Homo sapiens: one gene and its partners. The protein of the gene in region 1 interacts with the protein of each later gene in a biochemical or structural test. Each region holds a gene or a part of one and is shown in the gene's direction. Other genes may lie near its edges.

Region 1 (3,500 bases):
AGGCTGGAGTGCAATGGCGTGATCTCGGCTAACTGCAACCTCTGCCCCCTGGGTTCAAGCAATTCTCCTGCCTCAGCCTCCCTAGTAGCTGGGATTACAGGTGTATGCCACCACGCCCAGCTGATTTTTGTATTTTTAGTAGAGGCAGGGTTTCACCATGTTGGTCAGGCTGGTCTCGAACTCCTGACCTTTGGTGATCTGCCCACCTCGGCCTCCCAAAGTGCTGGAACTACAGGTGTGAGTCACCGCGCCTGTCCTATCTGTTGTTTTAAGCTCTGAAAATACTTGTCTGATAATGTTTTCTTCCAATTAAAAAAAGGCATGGAAAAGTTACCATGATGTTTCAGAAATATATGTACCTCCAGGTGGGGGCAGGGAAACTTAGCCAGGTATGGTGGTTCATGCAGTAATCCTAACAGAAGACTGAGGCAGGAAGATCCCTTGAATCCAGGAGGCCGGGGCTGCAGTGAGCTATTAGTGGCACCACTGCACCCCAGCCTGGGTAATAGAGGCAAGACCCTGTCTCTTAAATAAATAAATAAATAAATAAATAAATACAAACTCATTATGATGAAGACAGATTTGTTATAAGTTGTAATTAAAATCACCTTTGGAATTTAAGAAAAAACTTGTAAAAAATTTGACTAGGAACAGTGGTTCTTTAGTTCTTTCAGTTGTCTCACTTAAGAATTTTCTGACCTCTTCCTAGGAAAAAAAGCTATTTTTTTTAACGTATGACTTCTGGGGATTCAGATTCTTGCCAAGTTTATTTGTGGATTCCCTAGGTCTCCATGTGCTCCATGTTAAGAATCCTTGAACTGCTTTTGATAGTGATTAAACTTTCAGGCTCTAAAGATACTGTTTTAATATACTATCTAATGTTTTGATTATGAAATGTGAGCATAACTGAAAGTAAGTTAAAAATAGCAGTCAGTTCAGTATTCTTTTTTAAGCTCCTCTGTGTCAAGCAGTTCCTTTAGTCCAGATTGATCAACTCCTGCACAAGTGAAATTAAGTTTTGTCAAATTATCAAGTACTTTAGTATTCACTGTGCTAAATGACTGTGACTGGAAATGTTATGCATTTGCTTTGCTCAAGTTTGGAATTTTTTCCACACGTGTTAATGACCACTCTTAAAACCAGAGTTTTTTTTTGTTGAGACGGAGTCTCGCTCTGTCGCCAGGCTGGAGTGCAGTGGCACGAACTCGGCTAACTGCAATCTCCACCTCCCAGGTTCAAGCGATTCTCCTGCCTCAGCCTCCCGAGTAGCTGGAATTACAGGCACGCGCCACCACACCCAGCTAATTTTTTTTTATTTTTAGTAGAGACGGGTTTCACCATGTTGGCCAGGATGGTTTCAATCTCCTGACCTCGTGATCCACCCACCTCGGCCTCCTAAAGTGCTGGGACTACGGGAGTGAGCCACCAGAGTTTTACACATTAGAGAACATCTGTTCTATCCTTTTCTTTCTCTGGTGAGGAATTTGTAGGCCAAAGAAGTTGGATGACCAGATTCCTGATGTACAATTCGGTTCTTCTTCTTTTTTCCCTATACCTTATAGGATAGTTTACCTGTGTAAATGGATTTAAGAAGAAAATATGCTACAGATTCAAGTTGTATGGATTCTGAACACACATTATGTTTTCTGTTATAATGAACTATGGATGCATATGTGCTATAGAAATAAATACTAGAAACAAGGAAATGAGGACAGCAGCATCCAGCAGGGGCTTTTGACATTACAATTATAGTAATCAGAGTTCTGATTTAGGTGCCAAATTCGTATCTTATACAGTGCTGCTTTCTAAAAACAAAATAAATATGAGAGGCATAGTTTATGTAATAATATTATATCAAGGAAAAGAATTCTTATGTGTGTATGCGAAAAACGAGTTGGACTGTTGTTTCATTAGAGTTGAAATTTTCTTTGCAAATGTAATATATGAAGGAATGAATGTGGATATACCAATTAGGCAATTAAATAATAGGGAATCTTTTAACTTCAGCTAAAATCTTAGCAGCTTTTAAAATTTCTTCCCAAGTGAAGTGATTGATGGCCCTAGGGTCTTTTGTGGCAGAAACATGACTGTGTGGTTGGAAGAACTGGATAATTGGTTAAGAGCCCTCAGAATCAACAGAAATACTTCATTATTATTCATTCTTTCAAGGGCTACATGACACCATTGGGGGCATTTTATATTTTTTAAAAATCCTGGCCAGGCGCGGTGGCTCACGCCTGTAATCCCAGCACTTTGGGAGGCCGAGGCAGGAGGATCACAAGGTCAGGAGATCGAGACCATCCTGGCTAACATGGTGAAACCCCGTCTCTACTAAAAATACAAAAAAATTAGCTGGGCGTGGTGGTGGGTGCCTGTAGTCCCAGCTAGTCGGGAGGCTGAGGCAGGAGAATGGTGTGAACCCGGGAGCAGCAGAGCTTGCAGTGAGCGGAGATCACCCCACTGCACTCCAGCCTGGGCAACAGAGCAAGACTCCGTCTCAAAAAAAAAAAAAAACCTGAATGAAGCTATTCTAAAATTTCTTGAGTACTTAGGCACAGACATTTTTGGTTTTGAATTGGCCAGTAACTGAGATGCTTCTGAATAATTAGGATTCTACTGTAATTTAAAGTAATTTTAGATACTGGTTTCAGAATCTAAGGTTGACATATTTTGCATTAAAACAACTGGCTATGTTGTCTTTAGATTTTCAATTTTTTTTTTAGTTTTCAATACCTTCACATTATGTCTCTGTCAGTTTGGTTAATTTTGGGCAAATGAATTTATATTTTGAAAGTCTTTACAGTTCTAGGGATTGAAGGCATTGTAGTTAAGGAAACACTAGAAAGAACTAACAAATTTATATCATGAAACCATTGGTGATTTTTTTATTGCTCTGTAACTTTCTTAAGATTATAGCTTATACTCGGGAAAATGTTAGTAAGTAGCTGTTTTGTTTTGTTTTTTTTTTTTTGTGACTCTTAAAGACAACTAGATTACCATCTTACTATGAGGCAGGGACAAAGTGGTTTTAGTAACATAGGCCGATCCCAAGGCCAAATTTCAGTTTTCTGTAACCTTGTGATTTGCGTGTCTCTTTATTATCCATTCATGAGATTTTTTTTCAGTTCAATTAATTGGACATTCATTGAATGCATAATATGCATTTACCAGTAAGCCAGGTGAACAAGAAAGGCATCCCTGTGTAATGGAAAACACAGTCATGAAACAAATTTCTGTGGCCCAGGCTGGAATGCAGTGACGTGACTTGGCTCACTGCAACCTCTGCCTCCCGGGTTCAAGCAATTCTCCTGCCTCAGCCTCCTGAGTAGCTGGGATTACAGGTGCACGCCACCACACCCGGCTAATTTTGGTATTTTTAGTAGAGACAGGGTTTCACCATGTTGGTCAGGCTGGTCTCAAACTCCTGACCTCGTGATCCGCCCGCCTCAGCCTCCCAGAGTGCTGGGATTACAGGCAGGAGCCACCGCGCCCAGCCGAGG
Region 2 (3,500 bases), on another chromosome or scaffold:
AGACTGAATCTAATCCTGCACTTTTTTCTCCTGTATTGGTTAATAGTACCACAGTTCACAAGGTTGCCCAGTAATTTATGTTGTTCCTAAGCTCTTTGCTCTCTGTAATCCTTTTACATTTAATTAATCATCAAATTTGATGGATTCCACCTTTTTAATGTTGCTTCAGACTTTCCCACTTATTCTGCTCTAGTTCAGGCCCTTCCTTGTTTTTCAACTGGACAATTGTAGTAGTCTCCTAACTGGTCTTTTGTCTGTATTATAACCTGCCAACAGAGTTTTTCTTTTTGTTTGTTTGTTTTTGTTTGTTTTGTTTTTTTGTTTTTCTGAGACGGAGTCTCGCTCCGTCACCGAGGCTGGAGTGCAGTGGCGCGATCTCGGCTCACCGCAACCTCCACCTCCGGGGGTCACGCCATTCTCCTGCCTCAGCCTCCTGAGTAGCCGGGACTACAGGCGCCCACCACTATGCCCGGGTAATTTTTTTTTTTATTTTTTGGTATTTTTTGCAGAGACGGGGTTTTGAACTCCTAGGCTCAAGCGATCTGCCCGTCTTAGCCTCCCGAAATGCTGGGACTACAGACGTGGGCCACCATGCCCAGCCTTATCTTTTATTTTTATTTTTTAATATAGATAGGGTCACACTTTGTTGACCAGGGTGGTTTCAAACTCCAGGCCTCAAGGAATCCCCCTTGGCCTCCCCAAAGTGCTGGGATTACAGGTGTGAGCCACTGCACCCAGCCTCCTCTCTTTCAAAAAACATTTATTGAGCTATAATATACATACAGTAGCCGGGCGCAGTGGCTCACGCCTGTAATCCCAGCACTTTGGGAAGTTGAGGCAGGTGGATCACGAGGTCAGGAGTTCGAGAGCAGCCTGGCCAATATAGTGAAACCCCATCTCTACTAAATATACAAAAAAATTAGCCAGGCGTGGTGGTGCATGCCTGTAATCCCAGCTACTCGAGAGGCTGAGGCAAGAGAATTGCTTGAACCTGGGAGGTGGAGGTTGCAGTGAGCCGAGACGCGCCATTACACTCCGGCCTGGGTGACAGAGCGAGACTACGTCTCAAAAAAAAAAAAAAAAAAAAAAAAAATATATATATATATATATATATGATTTTATATATATATGATTTTATATATATATGATTGTGTATATATATATGATTTTGTATATATATATGATTTTGTATATATATATGATTTTGTATATATATGATTTTGTATATATATATGATTTTGTATATATATACACACGCACACATACACACATAAAGTGCTTAAAGTACCCTAATCGTAAGTTTTCTACTTGATGAATTTTAACATATATATGTTAAAATATATATTAAATATGTGTTAAATATATATTAAAATGTATATGTTAAAATATATATATTTATCTGTGTGACTATCCCCCAGATTAAGATATAGAACATTCCCACAACCCTAGAAAGTTCTTTCATGCTCCTTCCCCATCAGTACCCACCCCCAAGTTATATTCTGGCTTCTATTACCATAGATTAATTTTGTTTATTACCATAGATTAGTTTTGAAGTTCTTATAAATGGACTCATGCAGTAGGTACTCTTTTGTGTCATAATGATGAATTATGATTATGTTTTGCTCATTATATCTATGAGATCCATCCATATTGTCTGTGGCAATAGTTTTTTTTTTTTTTCTTGCTGTGTAGCGTATGAATATACCACAATTTATGTATCTGTTCACCTGATGATGGACATTTGAGTTGTTTCCAGTTTGGGGCTATTATAAATAACACTACTATGAATACTCTTGTGCATATCTTTGGCAGAGATATACACTCATTTTTAATACCCAAGAGTGGAATTGATGAGTCAGAGGGTATAAGTGTCCTCTCCTAGCACTTCCCTACACATGCTGTGTTCCTACTTTAAGTATCATAAAAACAAGTTTCCATTGACTTTCTTGCTTTATTCAGTCCTACCCGCTCTGCTACAGAAACGAAGTTTGAGAGCTAGGAAATTGACACATTCAAGGTTATAGACTGGGACTTCCCTGATTTCCCATCATTTTCCCCAAATAATTGCTAGTGACTCAGTAACAACATCCACTCTTTAAGTAACTTAGGTTAATTGTTAATGAGTACAGCTAGATTCAAAACAGTTCAGATTTTTGAAGCACTTAACCTTTTTCTTGCCTATTTTACCTTGCATCGTTTCAAACACTACAAAATACATACTCATTGCATTTACAATTAATTGTAAGATTCTGAAAGTGATTTTTCAGTGCCTGAATACTTCAAAAAATCTTCCCAAAGCAGCTTTGCTTTGCTGGTTTGTTTTTATTCTTTCGCTTGCTCCTTAATTTTTTCATTTTAACTATATTTTGCTATTGAGTTGTGATAATGAAAATAATTGTTTAAATTCTATGTTCTTTTTCCTCACCAATTTTTATTTCAGATGATACCATCTTCCAAAATCCTATGGTACAAGAAGCTATACGAATGGGGTTCAGTTTCAAGGACATTAAGAAAATAATGGAGGAAAAAATTCAGATATCTGGGAGCAACTATAAATCACTTGAGGTTCTGGTTGCAGATCTAGTGAATGCTCAGAAAGACAGTATGCAAGATGAGTCAAGTCAGACTTCATTACAGAAAGGTATGCATTGCTGTTTTTAAAAAGCAAGAAAGGGCCAGATGTGGTGGCTCATACCTGTAATCCCAGCACTTTGGGAGGCTGGGACAGGTGGATATGGACATTTTTTAAACGTAACCTTAATGCTGTGTGTTAGTCTGCTCAAGCTGCTATAATAAAATTCCATAGACTAGGTGTCTTAAACAACAGACTTATTTCTGACAGTTTTGGAGGCTCCAAAATCAAGGTGCTGGCTGATTTGGTTATTGATGAGGGCCCTCTTCCTACCTTGCAGATGGCTGCCTTCTCACTGTGTCCTCACATGGCATGGGTTGGGATTGGATGGGACAAGATGGAGCAAGTACTCTGGTCTCTTTTCCTCTACTTTTAGGAACACTAATCCCATCATGGGGGGGTCTCATCTTCATGACCTCATCTAAACCTAATTACTTCCCAAAGGCCTCATTTCCAAATATCATTACATTAATCATGGAAAAAAGATTAAAAATATGAGTTCTACCAGCCTGGACAACATAATGAAACTGTCTCTACAAAAAATACAAAAATTAGCCGGGCATGGTGGTGTGTGCCTGTAGTCCCAGCTCCTTGGGAGGCTGAGCGGGGAAGATCACCTGAGCCAGGGAGGTCAAGGCTGCAGTGAGCCATGATCATGCCACTACACTTCGGCCTGGGCAACTGAGCAAGATCTTGTCTCAAAATATATGTATCTCTCCTTTAAGGATGATGGACACTGTAGTGCTTGCCAACAACATCGAAGGTTAAAGAAGAAGTTTCAAACTGAGTACACTTTTGGGTACTTTACCTGTAATAGTTCTCTAAGCTCTTGACCATCCTCCCTCCAAAAAGATGAGAATTCTCCTAC
Region 3 (3,500 bases), on another chromosome or scaffold:
TTCATAGCAAACTTCAGGACTTTGAGATGTTGAAATTACATTATTTAATTACAGACTTCCTCTTTCTAAGATTTTGTGAATTGGTTGAATAGTTCTATACAAATGAAGTATGGAGGTGTGTATGTTTATATGTATATAACAAAATATTTTCATTGTGACCACTCTGAAGTAAGAGCAATGGGAATGGCATTATTGTAGAATAAGTCATTGTATTTTTAACACCAGAAAGAACCTTGCCGATCACCAGGCATAACCTAATTTTATCCATGGAAGAAACACAGAAAGGCATCTAAGTTAGAGCTGGCACCAGAACTGAGACCTCCAGAAATCTATTCCAGTATTTTTTCCACTACACAACTGCCTTCCTGACAGGTTCTGAGATAAGTGTTATGTTTGTAGATAGAGTGAAATATATTTATATATATATAAATATATACAGATACATATCTGTGTATTATCTCAAGGAATGTACAAACTTTAGTTTTTGATTATAAGGACTTCACTGCAAGTTTTAGTTAAGAGGTTTGTATATAAATCTGTTATAGAACAGGCTGAAATTTCTTGTTCATAAGATTATGAAACCACATGAGAAGTGATAAAATGTTTGTTAAAGCTAGATAGAGGTTAAGAATCAAGATATAATGGATAATTTTCATAGCTGCCTATCAGAATTTCCCAAATATTTAGCATCTTCCTTGATAATATGTATTTTCTTCTTGAATTTCACTGGCCTAATGAGATAATACTCTTATCTTTGGCTCTACCTAAAAGTTGGTTAAAAATGCAATTGGCATTAACAAGGAAAAATACTGAATTAGTAATTTTAAAAGTCTCACAAAGAAAATCCCAGGCCTAGATGGCTGCATTGTTGAATTCTGCCAAACATTAAAATTAGCACTAATTTTTTGCACACTGTTTCTAAAAGTAGGAGAGGAAAGAACACTTCCCAACTTACTCTAGGTCAGTATTACCCTGATACTAGACTAGACATCACAAGAAAACTATAAGCCAATATTCCTTATTAATACAAACACAAAAATCATTAACAAAAATATTAGCAAACTGAATCCAGCAACCTATAAAAAGGATTCTATATCATGACCAAGTGGAATTTATCCCAGGAATTCAAGGTTGGTTCAACATCTAAAAATCAAATAAGCTAATATACAGTCAGTTCTCATTATTCACAGTAATTATGTTCTACAGAATATTCTCCCATAAACACTGAATTAAATATGGAACAACTGCTTTTAGGAGAAAGTGTATTTGTGTATATGTGTGTATACATATGTTTATCTCACACACATTATGAGCTTGAATTCTTAATTCATCCTAGCAAATTCTACCTTATTTTACAGAAGTGAAAGTGAGGTATCAGAAGTGTTAAGTGACATGCCTGAGGCACCCCCCTAACAGGTGTCAGAGCTGAAATTCAAACCCCATCCAGCTGGCCCCGGAGCCAGAGCTTCTTGTACTACACAGAATTGCCCCTGCCATTTCCACCCTCCAGTCATTTCTCTATGAGACTGAAGCAGGAAGGCAGAGCATCATCTTGTTCAGCCTCAGCTGGGAACATGTGTACTGGGTGACTCAAATTTTTCACCCATTTACACATATCCACAAATGACTGCAAAAGTGCCACGGATATCAATTTGAGGGTTATAAATTTTAGCAAGTTGGTAAATTCACAAATACATAACCTTGAATAATGAGGATCAACTGTACCATATTTAATAAAGCACAAAACCCACACAGATTGTCTTATTACAGCATTTGATAAAATCCAAAACTCTTTCATAAAAACACTCAACAAACTTAGGAATAAAAGGAATCTTCCTAGATATGATAAATATAACATCTATGAAAAGCCCACACCTAACATTATACTTCATGGTGATAGACTGAAGGCTGAATGTTTTCCCCTTAAGATTGGGAAGAAGGACAAGGATGTTCACTCGGCACTACTTCTATTCAGCATTGTACTTGAAGTTCTAGCCACAGCAGTTAGGTTAGGAATTCAAGGTTTGTTCAACATCTAAAAATCAAATAAGCTAATAAAGAAAAGAGGTTTATACTGCAAAAGAAGTGAAACTATATGTATTCACAGTTGATACATAGTTGTATATAGAAAATGCTAAAGAATCCATAAAAAGTAATAAATGAGTTCAACAGGTTGCAGGATACAAGATCAGTTTTATTTCTCTACTAACAGCAAACATTCTGAAAATGAGAATAAAGAAATCCTATATACAGTAGCATCAAGAATAAAACTCCAACACGTTTAAAGAAATTAAGATCCAGATAAATGGAAAGACATCCATGTTCATGGATTGGAAGACTGAATATTGGTAAGATGGCAATGCTGCCCAAATTAGTCTACATATTCAACAATTCCTATCAAAATCCTAGCTGTATTTTTTGCAGAAATTGACAAACTGGTAAAATTGGTAGGGAAACGCAGGGGACCCAGAATAGCCAAAAAACCTTGGAAAAGAACAAAGTTGGAAGACGTACCAATTTCAAAAAGTGCTACCAAGCTACAATAAGACAGTGTAGGCATATGGATAGACATATCGATCAGAGGAATGGAACTGAACATCCAGAAATAAACCCATACATTTCTGGTCAACTTGTTTTCAACAAGGATGCCAATACCATCAATAGAGAAGGAGTGGTCTTTTCAACAAACGGTGCTGGGACAACTAACTGGTAGCTACGTGCACAGCAAAAGGATCCCTACCTTCCTACCACATTACAAATTCTAACTCAAAATGGATCATAGACCTCAATATAAGAGTTTAAACTCTTAGAAGAAAACAGAAGTAAATCTTTGTGATGTTGGGCTTAGGAATGGTTTCTTAGACATAATACCAAAAGCACAAGCAACAAAGGCAAACAGTAGATAAATGGGACTTCATCAAAATTAACTTTAGCGCCTTAAAGGACACCATTAAGAAAGTGAAGTTAACCCTCAGAATGGGAGAAAAATTTTTGAAAAATCATGTATCTGATAAAAAAACAAACAAACATGCAGGTGCTCAGCTGTGGTTACCACCGAGCAGCACTGTCCAGTGAACTTGCTGTGATGATGGGATGCTTGGTATCCGCACTCCCAGTGTGATAGCCTTTAGCCTCATGGGGTTGTTGAGCAGTTGAAATAATAGCTAGTGTGAGGAACTGAACATAAAATTTTAGTTTTAGGATGGGTGTGGTGGCTCACGCCTATAATCTCAGCACTTTGGGAGGCCAATGAAGGCGGATCACTTGAGCCCAGGAGTTCAAGACCAGCTTGACCAAGATGGCAAAACCCTGTCTCTATTAAAAATACAAAAAAATTAGCTGGGCATGGTGGCACACACCTGTAATCCCAGCTACTAGGGAGGCTGAGGCAGGAGAATCGTACTTCCCCTTTATACTCTTCTGTATATTTGATTTTTTTTTTTTTAAGACAGAGTCCTGGCTCTGTCGCCCAGGCTGGAGTGCAGCGACATAGTCTCAGC
Region 4 (3,500 bases), on another chromosome or scaffold:
GTGGCTCACACCTGTAATCCTAGCACTTTGGGAGGCTGAGGCAGGTGGATCACCTGAGGTCAGGAGTTTGAGACCAGCCTGGTCAACGTGGTGAAACCCCATCTCTACTAAAAATATAAAAAATTTTAGCCAGGCATGGTGGCTTATGCCTGTAATCCGTGCTACTCGGGAGGCTGAGGCAGGAGAATTGTTGGAACCCGGGAGGTGGATGTTGCAGTGAGCCGAGGTTGCACCACTGTACTCCAGCCTGGGTAACAAAAGTGAAAACTCTGTCTCAAAAAAAAAGAAAAAGAAAAAAAAAAAGGGTGGTGGGACACCATTGAAGGCTTAAAACAGAAAGTGACAAGCAAAGATTCTTTTTCTAAATAAAAGGTTACCCTGGCTACTCTGTAGAGAATAGAGAGTCACAAAGAAGGGACCAGTAAGGAAGTGTTTGTCTCCCTTCTTGAGAAGGATCATCGCAGATAGGGCAGGATATGGCAGTGGACATAGAACGGGATAGTTGCAGGATGCATTTAAAAAGTAGAACCAGGCTGGGCATGGTGGCTCACGCCTGTAATCCCAGCACTTTGGGAGGCTGAAGTGGGCAGATCACCTGAGGTCAGGAGTTTGAGACCAGCCTGACCAACATGGAGAAATCCCGTCTCTACTAAAAATACAAAATTAGCCGGGCGTGGTGGTGCATGCCTGTAATCCCAGCTACTCAGAAGGCTGAGGCAGGAGAATCATTTGAACCCAGGAGGCGGAGGTTGTGGTGAGCCGAGATCATGCCACTGCATTCCAGCCTGGGCAACAGAGCAAAACTTTGTCTCAAAAAAAAAAAAAAAAAAAAGTAGAAGTAAAATTCACTAGAGAAGGAAAGGAAGAAGGAAGAGTATGGAGTACAGAACCCTAGGGCCTATGTAGGGGGCAAAAGAAGGAACCAGGGAAGGAAAATAAGGGAGCAAGAGTGGTCATTGATGTCAAAGGTAAGTCAGGCTACCACGCTTGCAGTGGGAGCCAGTGTGGGAGAAGGAGTCTGTAAGGGGAATTCAAGTGTATCCAGAGTAAGTGTGCTGTCTGATGTGTGGCAAGTCAATACCCAAGACCTGGGGGCGGGGTTTATTTGTTGGGCTGCAGAATGAGGAGATGAGAGGGAACTGCAAATCCGTCCTCCTGAGGAGTTTGGAGCTAGGGTTTTTAAGGATTTTGGAGTGGGCTGGAATGTGGAGATTGTTGGGTGGTCAGAGAGAGAAAGGTGAAGTAATGGGACCCGGAGATGAAAAAACTGTATTATGCTGATTTTATTTCTCTCTGAGGGTCTTCAAACTGGTTGGCATCAGCTGTTTTACCAGAATTTGGGATCTGAAAAATATCTCAAGCAATTCTTAAAAAAAAAGCCTTATGCTTCTAATGTCAGAGATACTATCTTTAGAAACAATAGGGATGCAAATGGTCAGTATCTAGCGCTGTGTGACTTTCAGTTACAAGGAAATGTGTCAAAATCCAGCCTGATTAATGTTTTTTTTTTGTTTGTTTGTTTGTTTGTTTTTTTTTGAGATGGAGTTTTGCTCTTGTGGCCCAGGCTGGAGTGCAATGGCATGATCTCGGCTCACTGCAACCTCTGCCTCCTGGGTTCAAGTGATTCTCCTGCCTCAGCCTCCTGAGTAGCTAGACTACAGGTGTGTGCCACCACACCTGGCTAATTTTGTATTTTTAGTAGAGATGGGTTTTCACCGTTTTGGCCAGGCTGGTCTCAAACTCCTGACCTCAGGTGATCCGCCCACCTTGGCCTCCCAAAGTGCTGGGATTACAGGTGAGCCATCGCACCTGGCCTAATGCTTAATTAAAGTTATATTTCTGTCCATAGTTCTTGGTAACCCTCTGAAGACAGCTTCATAATGAAGAATTTGGGTAGGTTTTGGGTGCATGGGGCTTCAGGGAGTCATGAAGGTTGAGGACATAGGAAAGAATCACACATTTATCCATCAGAAGATCATTGGTGACCATTGGCCGGGCGCTGTGGCTCACGCCTGTAATCCCAGCACTTTGGGAGGCCGAGGCAAGTGGATCACGAGGTCAGGAGATCGAGACCATCTTGGCTAACACGGTGAAACCCCGTGTCTACTAAAAATACAAAAAAATTGGCCAGGCGTGCTGGTGGGCACCCGTAGTCCCAGCTACTCAGGAGGCTGAGGCAGGAGAATGGCGTGAACCCGGGAGGTGGAGCTTGCAGTGAGCCAAAATCGCGCCACTGCACTCCAGCCTGGGCAACAAAGCAAGACTCAATCTCAAAAAAAAAAAAAAAGCTGTTGGATCGGTGTTTACTAAGCACCTACTCTAAGCCTGTCACTGTGTTAGTGTTAAGGATTTGTGTGAATGACCTCTTTTAGGTACTTCATTTTACAGATGAGAAAAATGACGCTTAGGGAATTAATCACCTTAACAGGTCACACAGAAAGAAGACTATGAGTTCTGTCTGACCCAGGCCCCATGCTCCTAAACCTTGCATGACACTGCTCTTTGGAAAGCCCTATCAGGACATCAGCTAGAGAGGAATGAAAGGTTTTTAGAGCCCAGTGATGGCTTACCCCAGCTGTATGAATTTGTTAGCAACCCAGTTAAATAAAGTCTTCTGATTTTTCTATAGTAATCTGGCAGTTTAGGAATGGAGAGGTGGGGGAGGGAGGGGAAGATAAAAGATAGAGTAAGAGTTCAGTAAATTAGAAAGGGGATTATTTTGTTGTTCATAAGTGTAATGATTGGATTTTCATGCACATGTATGAGATGTGCCTCCATCAAGCCTTGTTACTACAAAGTCAGTGCATTACCCATCTGATGTGGGAAAAATAAATCAGAAAGAGGCCTCAGCTTGTGGGAATGGTGGAATGCAATGGCTTGTGTTGTTAAGCAAAATTGTGTTTTACAGTAAATATTTATTGTGGTTCTTTTGATGCAAGTTATATTGGGATATGGAGGAAAATGCAAAAATGGATAAGATGGTGTATTTGACCTCTACACGGTTAGAGAGGAAGGTAAAGTGCTTCACTATAGTGCTTGATTGAAGGGTATGACAGGGGTGGAAGGTGGAGAAGTATGGGAAAGTATTATACAAGTTAGCTTGTAGAGCGAGGGTGGCATTAGGTAGGGCTGGCCAGGGTGGTGCCAATCTAGCTTCTCAGGATGACCCCTCAGGATTTTGGTCACTGTGTCGTCAGTCTAGTCTTGGGTCACAAAATGTATTTTGTGGAGAACCTGGAAATAATTAGTCTTGAAGACAGGATTGTATTCAGACTTGAGTGATTGAGCTCAGAATGGAATGCCAATTTATTATTTTAGAATGAAGGATTCCTTTTCCGTTAACGGGATTCTGGAATTTGTTAGGATAATTGCTTTTCAATATCAAGAGATCTGGCAATCAAATTTAATAATATCAAGCTTGCTTGGTGAGCATGGATTTATAAGATAGAATGGTTTGTGGGGGAGAATATAGTTACAAAAAAGATTATTGTTTCCCATAA
Region 5 (3,500 bases), on another chromosome or scaffold:
AGGAGAAAAATTGAACAACCTCTGGGTCTCCGGGTTTTGCTTTGGCTTCCCTAAAATGATTCAAGAGCCTCATTTTTGGGGAAGTCAGTAAGCCAAGTTATCCCTGGAGAGTGAATCCTGGGAAACAGGATTTACCATTGTCAGGGTCTGGAAGAGGCAGAATAGGCCAGATATAAAATCTAATAAGGTATTATTAGAACAATGTGTGTTCTAGACAACCAGGAGGACTTCAGACAAGTTTTGCTTCTCATAGCAGCCTTGACACAGATATAACAAGGCACATAGCCCATGTGCTCATGGAATGCAGAATATCAACAGGCCATTGTTCATCCAACAAAACTGTGGTTGGCTTCTCTCCATTAGACTGCAGTAATTCTTTGAGCATCTAACAATAATTTTTTGAACATATAGGGGATTTTTTTTTTTTTTTTTGAGACACAGTCTCGCTCTGTCACCTAGGCTGGAGTGCAGTGGTGTAATCTCGGCTCACAACCTCCGCCCTACAGGTTCAACCAGTTCTCGTGCTTCAGCCTCCCAAGTAGCTACTGGCATGTGCCACCACACCTGGCTAATTTGTGTATGTGTGTGTGTGTGTGTGTGTGTGTGTGTGTGTGTGTGTGTGTGTATATATATATATATATATTTTTTTTTTTTTTGGTAGAGACGGGTGTTTCACCATGTTGGCCAGGCTGGTCTCAAATTCCTGACCTCAGGTGATCCATCCGCCTTGGCCTCCCAGAGTGCTGGTATTACAGGTGTGAGCTACCGCAAAAGCAGAATCATAATTCTGATTATGAACCATTGGATAGCTCTAGGTTTTATAGAAATGTGTTATTTGCCAGGCGCAGTGGCTCACGCCTATAATCCCAGCACTTTGAGAGGCAGAGATGGGCGAATCACTGAACACTGGGGGTTCTCGAGACCAGCCTGGCCAACATGGTGAAACCCCATCTCTACTAAAAATACAAAAATTAGCCAGCATGTTGGCAGGCACCTGTAGTCCCAGCTACTCGGGAGGCTGAGGCAAGAGAATCGCTTGAACCTGGGATGCAGAGGTTGCAGTAAGCCAAGATCGCGCCACTGCACTCCAGCCTGGGTGACAGAGTGAGACTCTGTCTCAAAAAAAAAAAGAAAAAGAAAAATAAGAAATGTGTTTTTTAAAATAGAAGAAAAAGGGGGAAAGCCTTTATTCTTAGTTTCATATACAAAAATCTTTCTAGGACAAGTGTGAGGGTAGGAAGCAGTAGGGAGGTCAGTTTGTACTGATGATGTGCGTTTAAGACAGTCAGGTCGGCCTCAGTTGGACTAGTTCCTCCTTCTTATAGTGGCATTGACATAGCAGACCAGTAGTCTGTATGGTCAGCATCTGCCTGTGTTAGATTAATAAGGCGCATGGCACATGTGCTCATGGAATAGAAATTATCCATAGGCTTTTGTTCCTATCAGCAAGTACAGGCTACAAGGACAGTAGGATGTGACAGGGATGAGAGGTGCACATTCCTTCGGGAAAGAGGCACCCTTGGGAAGTTGTGTTCAGGTGACCCCTTTGGGAGCAGGGTCTGTCTGTCTCACTCCTCTGCCTATGGAGGAAAGTGGAGTTGTCTTGTAGATGTAAATGACTCTTCCTCTGTTCTGCACAGACTTCTGCTGGATGTGTCTAGGAGATTGGAAGACTCATGGCAGTGAATACTATGAGTGCAGTCGTTACAAGGAGAATCCTGACATCGTGAACCAGAGCCAACAAGCCCAGGCGAGGGAAGCCCTCAAGAAGTACTTATTCTACTTTGAGAGGGTAGGTGTCCTCTCCTGTACCTTCCCCTACAGGGTAGGCTTCTTCCACTTGGCCTGCTGGTGGGATTCCCAGGGACTGGTAGACAGAGCTAGCCTGTGCACATAGAAGTCAGTGAATGGAGCTCCTGCAGTATCCCTGGTGCTGCCTCTATAGATGTGCCTTTCAAGCTCTATAGGGTATATCCCCAGCCAACAGGGAAGGACCTGGTACTGACCTTGGTTGAATGATGGATTGAAGGACAATGAAGGGCCATCAGACAGTCTTTTCCATCTAGTACCATCTTTTTTTTTTTTTCTTTTTTCTACGTTTTTAATTTTTATTTATTTTTTTCTTTCTGTCCTCACAATCTGTTCCCATAGTATCATCTTAGTAGTCAGATTTGGAAGGCAGTTTCTCCCAGGGAGCCCTTTAGAAGCCCAAAGAGCCCCATGCATAATGGTCTCTAAGCATAGTAGACCATCAGGGGCCTAGCTTTGCAGAGTCCTCAGGGCTCGAGTCCTGTTGCCCCAGAAGGGTAGAGCGATCTGGCAGTAAGCATACAGCTGCTCTGGACAGGTTAGAAGGATGGACTGAAGAAGACCTGCTCTTGCACTTTGGGGAATAAGTTAGAGGAGTCTGTGGCCATGTCCTGCCAGCAAGGTGTCTATCCTGAACTCCTGTGTAGACCTCTGCACCTTCATGGGACTCCTGTGGTTTTCTTCTTCTTCTGTGCCCTGTAGTGGGAAAACCACAATAAAAGCTTGCAGCTAGAGGCACAGACATACCAGCGGATTCACGAGAAGATTCAGGAGAGGGTCATGAACAATCTGGGGACATGGATCGACTGGCAGTACCTACAGAATGCTGCCAAGCTCTTGGCCAAGGTATCTACCACTTCACTCATCTTATCCCTGGTCCAGTGCCTGGCTCCGTCAGGCACAGACCTCTGATAGTGGGAAGCTCTGTTGAAAGAGGGTATTTTAGCACCCTGTGCAGCCTTTCATGCTTCTGCTTGTGGATCCACATTTTCATGTGCTGTGCCCATTAAGGACCCAGTCCTCTGATGGATGTCCAGGGGATTTATAAGAGTGTTGCACTGCCTCTGCCTGCAGGGAAAACTAGAGCACTTTTCTTCTCCTTTTGTCCTGTTTATGTATCACTCAAAGGAAAATAAAAGATTGTCTGATCACTTGAGGTCAGGAGTTTGAGACCAGCCTGGCCAACATGGTGAAATCCTGTCTCTAATAAAAATACAAAAATTAGCTGGGCATGGTGGTGCATGCCTGTAGTTCCAGCTACTTGGGAGGCTGAGGCACGAGAATTGCTTGAACCTGGGAGTCAGAGGCTGCAGTGAGCCGAGATCACACCATTGCACTCCAGCCTGGGTGACAAAGCAAGACTGTCAAAAAAAAAAAAAAAAAAAAAAAAAAGATTGGGCAGGGTGCAGTGTCTCACGCCTATGATCCCAGCACTTCGGAAGGCCAAGGCAGGTGCATTGCTTGAGCCCAGGAGTTTGAGACCAGCCTGGGCAACATGAGAAAACCCCGTCTCTACAAAAAAAATACAAACGTTCGCCTGGTGTGGTGATGCACACCTGTAGTCCTGGCTACTTGGAAGGCTGAGGTGGGAGGATCGCTTGAGTCTGGGAGGCAGAGTTTGCAGTGAGTGGGGATTGCACCACTGCACTCCAGCCTGGGCAACAGAACAAAACCTTGTTTCAAAAAAAAAA
Region 6 (2,773 bases), on another chromosome or scaffold:
GTTAAGTAGCTCTTGGATGTGATTTCCTTCCACCCAAAAAATATGGGCAAAGCCCCCCAGAGGGAAGGTCAAAAGGATGCAGTGGGGTAATATTTCTAGCTGTATGAAGGGGTCTCCAGGCCTCCGCTGCCCTAGCCTGGTGATGCCAGCAGCAAAGAGCAAGGAACCAAAGGGCAGCCTTCCCCACGGCCTGCCTGCCAGTCACCAGTTTGAGCCAGAAAGCAGTGGAGGGGGACGACAGAATTATACTGTTGTTAATATTGTCTATATGTGAAAACTAATCTTGGGATAATATAATATTCCTTGCCCAACCCCATCCCCACCACCCAAGCAATTGAATTCTTTAAAAAACAGCTTCACAGAAAATATGGGGAAGACCAGCTTTTATAGGGCTTGCTCAACAATTTTGAGATGTGCACAGTAAGAGAACTTTAGTTCTGATCCCTTTGACAGCGGAACAGGGGGCATGGAAAACAGCGTATTTCTGGTTCAGGAAATACCCTTCATTTTATGCATGACAGCATTGATGATGAATAGAGACGGAGACTTTTAGTCTTGAATATTTCACTTGCTTTGAGCAAAAGTAGTTAAGAACACAGTTTAAGCCCAGGAAAATGGAGTAGTTAAGTACTCATAGAGGGTTGAAGCAATAGAAGTTTTGAGAAGGCCCAATGGCTCAATGCATTTCTTTCTTTGCAGTATGCCACCACGGGCTGTTCCCTGACCCTGCACCATACGGAGAAACCAGAACATGAAGACATATGTGAATACCGTCCCTACTCCTGCCCATGTCCTGGTGCTTCCTGCAAGTGGCAGGGGTCCCTGGAAGCTGTGATGTCCCATCTCATGCACGCCCACAAGAGCATTACCACCCTTCAGGGAGAAGACATCGTCTTTCTAGCTACAGACATTAACTTGCCAGGGGCTGTCGACTGGGTGATGATGCAGTCATGTTTTGGCCATCACTTCATGCTGGTGCTGGAGAAACAAGAGAAGTACGAAGGCCACCAGCAGTTTTTTGCCATCGTCCTGCTCATTGGCACCCGCAAGCAAGCCGAGAACTTTGCCTACAGACTGGAGTTGAATGGGAACCGGCGGAGATTGACCTGGGAGGCCACGCCCCGTTCGATTCATGACGGTGTGGCTGCGGCCATCATGAACAGCGACTGCCTTGTTTTCGACACAGCCATAGCACATCTTTTTGCAGATAATGGGAACCTTGGAATCAATGTTACTATTTCTACATGTTGTCCATGATGTGACTTTCGTAAACCTTCAAAATTATTTGGGCATAGTGCTCTATGTTTAATAAAGGTTTTTATAGATGTTTTATTCCATATGTCTTCACAAGTCAGGACCCACAATTACCCGTGTTTTGTTTGAACAGCAGTGTCCCATCTGGCTTCGACCCAACAAAGTTCATTAACCTGGGATGAATGGGGTTGGCCTGTTGGTGATTTGGATGCTGTTCTGTGATCTAAAACAACTCTTATTGAATTGTATTTACTCCCTAAACAACACTTGACAGGCTGTTGCACAGGGCTTCTATAGATCAGTGTGTTAGGAATGGGAGGCCCCTTCCTGCCTGCCTTCCCATATTGGTCCCTTGACATTGACAAAAGCACAGTGACTGTCAGCAGATTCCTTTACTTTTGTTTGTGGGAGGTAGGAATTGTTTTAATGCATTTTAAACAGTGTTTCTGAAATTGGATGGCTGGCTAATAGACACTGAATCACCCGGAGTGCTTATCTTAAAATTGCAGATTTAGGGAGCCTGCCAATTTAACAGTCTCATCAGGTGATTCTTTTCAACAGTAATGTTTGAGAATTACTGGGTTAAATTGTGGGAAAGGGTCCAGATTTTAAAGGTGCTTTAAGGTTGCCCTCTGCCGATACTGTTTGTCTTTCTACTGTTTCATCCCCTAACTTCCCCCAACCCTCAAATTAAAACTAGAACTATAGATCCACATGAACGCACGCCTGAGATTTGGCCACTCACCTATGTTTTGGGTGGATTGCCTAGGAAAGCAAGTCATATGGCCATTGATAGTTCTCATGTAATTAGTTTTGCTCACCACTAGTACAGATGACCCGTTTACACGTGGCTTCCCTCGGAAGCCCTCCTCAACAGTAGCTGGTGTGAAAGACTAAATCAGTAGAGTTGGAAAAGCTTTATAACCGGTGTGTCATATGCTTGCTATTTAAAGCTGTGTGTTGGTTTTGTTTTTCTGCCACATTCACTAGTTTTTTAATAAATATTTTCCAAAAATGGATATTGTGCTTCATTTCCCTAATTGAGTAATGGGTATTTATTGAGCATCTACTGTGTGCAAGTGCAATGAACCTTCGTCACTACATCTGGGGTTGGAACTTTCACTGTTTGTTTCCACTGTGGAAACAGTCATTGGGCCAAGGTCATGGCACGGGTCCATGACAGCACTGGGGTCCGGGCTCATGTGTCTGAACCACTGACTGTCAGTGCTGCAGGTCTCCTCCCAGGGCTGTCGTTTCTATCTGACAGTGCCAGTACCTGTGCAATAAGAGGATTGCTCCAGCTTTACAGAGTCAGAAGGAAGACGCTTGGCCACTGCTGACATCCAGAGTGCTGGCGTTGATCCAAGCTGACCCACTCCCTCAGTCCCAACCCTAAACTCTCAAAAGAATTTAGAGGATTAGGGCCAAATGCTCAGCAAGGATTGAAGGCTGCTTACCTCAGTGTCCCAATTTCTTTCTTTTTTTTTTTTTTTTTTTTTGAGACAGAGGCTGGAGTGCA
Region 7 (3,500 bases), on another chromosome or scaffold:
AACTTATAGCTTGTTGCTCTTGGTTCCAAGGAAGGGCATTTGTGACATTTTATTAAATTCATTAATTTTTTAGACACACCATTGTCAGCTTGAACAAATTTATTAATTGTAATTATTTGTCAGCTGTTCTTGATCCTGTTAATACCATACTTATAACTAAAAGCATTTCCATGGATGTTGTAACTTGGCCTGTAAAAAAAATGTTTAGATAGAAACCATGAAACTCAAATATGAATTGTTTAATTTTCAAACCATTTTGCATTCAGAAAATGTCCTAAGCTTAATTCATACTCCTAGTGATCAAGGAAACATGTTAAAGCTCCTTATTTTTAAACTTAAAGTGACAATGACATTTTCAAAGATTTTAAAATTCTTATAAACAGGTTAAAATACTTATATACTGTATAATTTGATTTCTGATTTCTAAGCTCTACTTTTCTATTGGAAATTACAGATTTTTTTCAGACTTAATTCTTAAGATGTTTTCATTGTTTCACAGTAGCAACTAAACATGTAGTAAAATGATTTAAATTCAATTAAAATTTTTTTCCTTAGTCATTTAAAAGGGAAGAAATCAATTTTTAGTAGTACTCATTCCAAAGATTCCAATTTTCCTTTTTTTTAATCTTTTATTTTTTGGTGGAGGGAGGCAGGATCTGGCTCTGAGGCCCAGGCTGGAGTGTAGTGGTTCTGTCTCGGCTCACTGCAACCTCCACCTCCCAGGCTGAAGACTCAAACCATCCCCATGCATCACCCTCTCAAGTAGCTGAGACTATAGGCACATGCTACCACACCCAGCTTATTTTTTGTGTTTTTGTAGAGATGGGGTTTCTCCATCTTGCCCAGGCTGGTCTTGAACTCCTGAGCTCAAGTGATCTGCCTGCCTCAGCCTCCCCAAAGTGCTGGGATTACAGGTGTGAACTACCACACCGGGCCCCAATTTTCCAATGAGTGATATAAAAAAGGCCTCCACGCAGGCGCCTGTAGTCCCAACTACTCCGGAGGCTGAGGCCAGAGAATGGCATGAACCCGGGAGGCGGAGCTTGCACTAAGCTGAGTGCTGCTGCACTCCAGCTTGGGCGACAGAGCGAGACCGTCTCAAAAAAAAAAAAAAAAAAAAAAGCCTCCATGATTGGGGCTTGCATAGTGAAGACCATGTGAAATTGAAAGACTACGAAACTACTTTTCTTTTACGTATTGGCCCATAATTAACATGTGTATTGAATAGCTTTGTTTATCTAAGTTCATCAGATTTATCCAGGTTTATGTATTTCAGATCATCTGATTTTATTAGGAAAATGCTAGAAAAATTTCATGGCACCATTGTCTAATTTTGAAAAAACGAACCTTTCTTTACTGTGATTAAAAATTGTTTTTTAGGCCAGGTGTGGTGGCTCACGCCTGTAATCCCAGCACTTTGGGAGGCTGAGGCTGGCAGATCACGAGGTCAAGAGGTTGAGACCATCCTGGCAAACATGGTGAAACCCCTTCTCTACTAAAAATACAAAAATTAGCTGGCGTGGTGGTGCACACCTGTAGTCCTAGCTACTCAGGAGGCTGAGGCAGGAGAATTGTTTGAACCTAGGAGGCAGAGGTTGCAGTGAGCTGAGATCGTGCCACTCCAGCCCACCCTGGGTAACAGAGCGAGACTCCATCTCAAGGAAAAAAATGAAAAATTGTTTTCAAAAATAGTACGTGTGGTACAGATATAAGTAATTATATTTTTATAAATGAAACACTTTGGAAATGTAGCCATTTTTTGTTTTTTTATGTTTATTTTTCAGCTATGGGTGGATAAAGCATGAATATAACTTTTCTTATGTGTTAGTAGAAAATTAGAAAGCTTGAATTTAATTAACGTATTTTTCTACCCGATGCCACCAAATTACTTACTACTTTATTCCTTTGGCTTCATAAAATTACATATCACCATTCACCCCAATTTATAGCAGATATATGTGGACATTGTTTTCTCAAGTGCTAATATAATAGAAATCAATGTTGCATGCCTAATTACATATATTTTAAATGTTTTATATGCATAATTATTTTAAGTTTATATTTGTATTATTCATCAGTCCTTAATAAAATACAAAAGTAATGTATTTTTAAAAATCATTTCTTATAGGTATGTTCACATACGATGAATCTACAAAATTGTTTTGGTTTAATCCATCTTCTTTTGAAACTGAGGGTCAGTTTACTCTGATTGGCATAGTACTGGGTCTGGCTATTTACAATAACTGTATACTGGATGTACATTTTCCCATGGTTGTCTACAGGAAGCTAATGGGGAAAAAAGGAACTTTTCGTGACTTGGGAGACTCTCACCCAGTAAGTTCTTTGTCATTTTTTTAATTCAGTCTCTTAGATTTTATTTAAATGCAAAAATTTAATTTATGTCAAAATTTTAAAGTTTTTGTTTAGAATCTTTGTTGATACTCTTATCAATAAGATAAAAATGTTTTAATCTGACCGAAGTACCAGAAACACTTAAAAACTCAAAGGGGGACATTTTTATATATTGCTGTCAGCACGAAGCTTTTGTAAGATTGATTTCATAGAGAAGTGTTTCTAAACATTTTGTTTGTGTTTTAGTGAAATCTTAAGAGATAGGTAAAAATCAGAGTAGCCCTGGCTAAGGGTCTTGGTAGTTACAACGAGTGTGCCTGCTCCTACCACCCCCACCCCCACCTTGAGACACCACAGAATTTCTCATAGAGCACAGTGTGAATTCTATTGCTAAATTGGTGGTATGGGGTTTCTCAGCAGAGAATGGGACATCACAGTGACTGACAATCTTTCTTTTATAGGTTGGAAACTATTTGGGGGACTGGAGGGATACTGTCTACACTTTTTACAATTTTTATTGATAAGATTTTTGTTGTCTTCTAAGAAGAGTGATATAAATTATTTGTTGTATTTTGTAGTTCTATGGTGGCCTCAATTTACCATTTCTGGTTGCTAGGTTCTATATCAGAGTTTAAAAGATTTATTGGAGTATGAAGGGAATGTGGAAGATGACATGATGATCACTTTCCAGATATCACAGACAGATCTTTTTGGTAACCCAATGATGTATGATCTAAAGGAAAATGGTGATAAAATTCCAATTACAAATGAAAACAGGAAGGTAATAAATGTTTTTATGTCACATTTTGTCTCTTCATTAACACTTTCAAAGCATGTATGCTTATAATTTTTAAAGAAGTATCTAATATAGTCTGTACAAAAAAAAAACAAGTAACTAAGTTTATGTAAATGCTAGAGTCCACTTTTCTAAATCTTGGATATAAGTTGGTATGAAAGCACACAGTTGGGCACTAAAGCCCCTTTTAGAGAAAGAGGACATGAAGCAGGAGATAGTTAATAGCTAAGTGTGGTTGTAGTATAAAGCAAGAAGCAGGGTGTTTCTTGTATTAAGCTGTAAGCAGGAACCTCATGATTAAGGTCTTTATCACAGAACAAATAAAAATTACATTTAATTTACACATGTATAT

What was found.
Region 2: the proteins of UBE2N (region 1) and XIAP form a complex in vitro, tested with the Homo sapiens proteins (one study listed by BioGRID).
Region 3: the proteins of UBE2N (region 1) and MALT1 form a complex in vitro, tested with the Homo sapiens proteins (one study listed by BioGRID).
Region 4: the proteins of UBE2N (region 1) and RFFL form a complex in vitro, tested with the Homo sapiens proteins (one study listed by BioGRID).
Region 5: the proteins of UBE2N (region 1) and ARIH2 form a complex in vitro, tested with the Homo sapiens proteins (one study listed by BioGRID).
Region 6: the proteins of UBE2N (region 1) and SIAH2 form a complex in vitro, tested with the Homo sapiens proteins (one study listed by BioGRID).
Region 7: the proteins of UBE2N (region 1) and UBE3A form a complex in vitro, tested with the Homo sapiens proteins (one study listed by BioGRID).

The regions. Positions count from the first base shown.
Region 1 is NC_000012.12:93,431,948-93,435,447, reverse strand, and holds part of UBE2N (ubiquitin-conjugating enzyme E2 N), read left to right. Parts: intron 1-3,500. UniProt on the Homo sapiens protein: The UBE2V1-UBE2N and UBE2V2-UBE2N heterodimers catalyze the synthesis of non-canonical 'Lys-63'-linked polyubiquitin chains. This type of polyubiquitination does not lead to protein degradation by the proteasome.
Region 2 is NC_000023.11:123,898,053-123,901,552, forward strand, and holds part of XIAP (E3 ubiquitin-protein ligase XIAP), read left to right. Parts: intron 1-2,440; coding exon 2,441-2,641; intron 2,642-3,500.
Region 3 is NC_000018.10:58,747,965-58,751,464, forward strand, and holds part of MALT1 (mucosa-associated lymphoid tissue lymphoma translocation protein 1), read left to right. Parts: 3' UTR 1-3,500. UniProt on the Homo sapiens protein: Protease that enhances BCL10-induced activation: acts via formation of CBM complexes that channel adaptive and innate immune signaling downstream of CARD domain-containing proteins (CARD9, CARD11 and CARD14) to activate NF-kappa-B and MAP kinase p38 pathways which stimulate expression of genes encoding pro-inflammatory cytokines and chemokines.
Region 4 is NC_000017.11:35,053,708-35,057,207, reverse strand, and holds part of RFFL (E3 ubiquitin-protein ligase rififylin), read left to right. Parts: intron 1-2,713; exon of another isoform or gene 2,714-2,820; intron 2,821-3,500.
Region 5 is NC_000003.12:48,977,842-48,981,341, forward strand, and holds part of ARIH2 (E3 ubiquitin-protein ligase ARIH2), read left to right. Parts: intron 1-1,640; coding exon 1,641-1,792; intron 1,793-2,511; coding exon 2,512-2,655; intron 2,656-3,500.
Region 6 is NC_000003.12:150,740,625-150,743,397, reverse strand, and holds the end of SIAH2 (E3 ubiquitin-protein ligase SIAH2), read left to right. Parts: intron 1-699; coding exon 700-1,257; 3' UTR 1,258-2,273; downstream 2,274-2,773. UniProt on the Homo sapiens protein: E3 ubiquitin-protein ligase that mediates ubiquitination and subsequent proteasomal degradation of target proteins.
Region 7 is NC_000015.10:25,355,525-25,359,024, reverse strand, and holds part of UBE3A (ubiquitin-protein ligase E3A), read left to right. Parts: intron 1-2,128; coding exon 2,129-2,334; intron 2,335-2,968; coding exon 2,969-3,133; intron 3,134-3,500. UniProt on the Homo sapiens protein: E3 ubiquitin-protein ligase which accepts ubiquitin from an E2 ubiquitin-conjugating enzyme in the form of a thioester and transfers it to its substrates.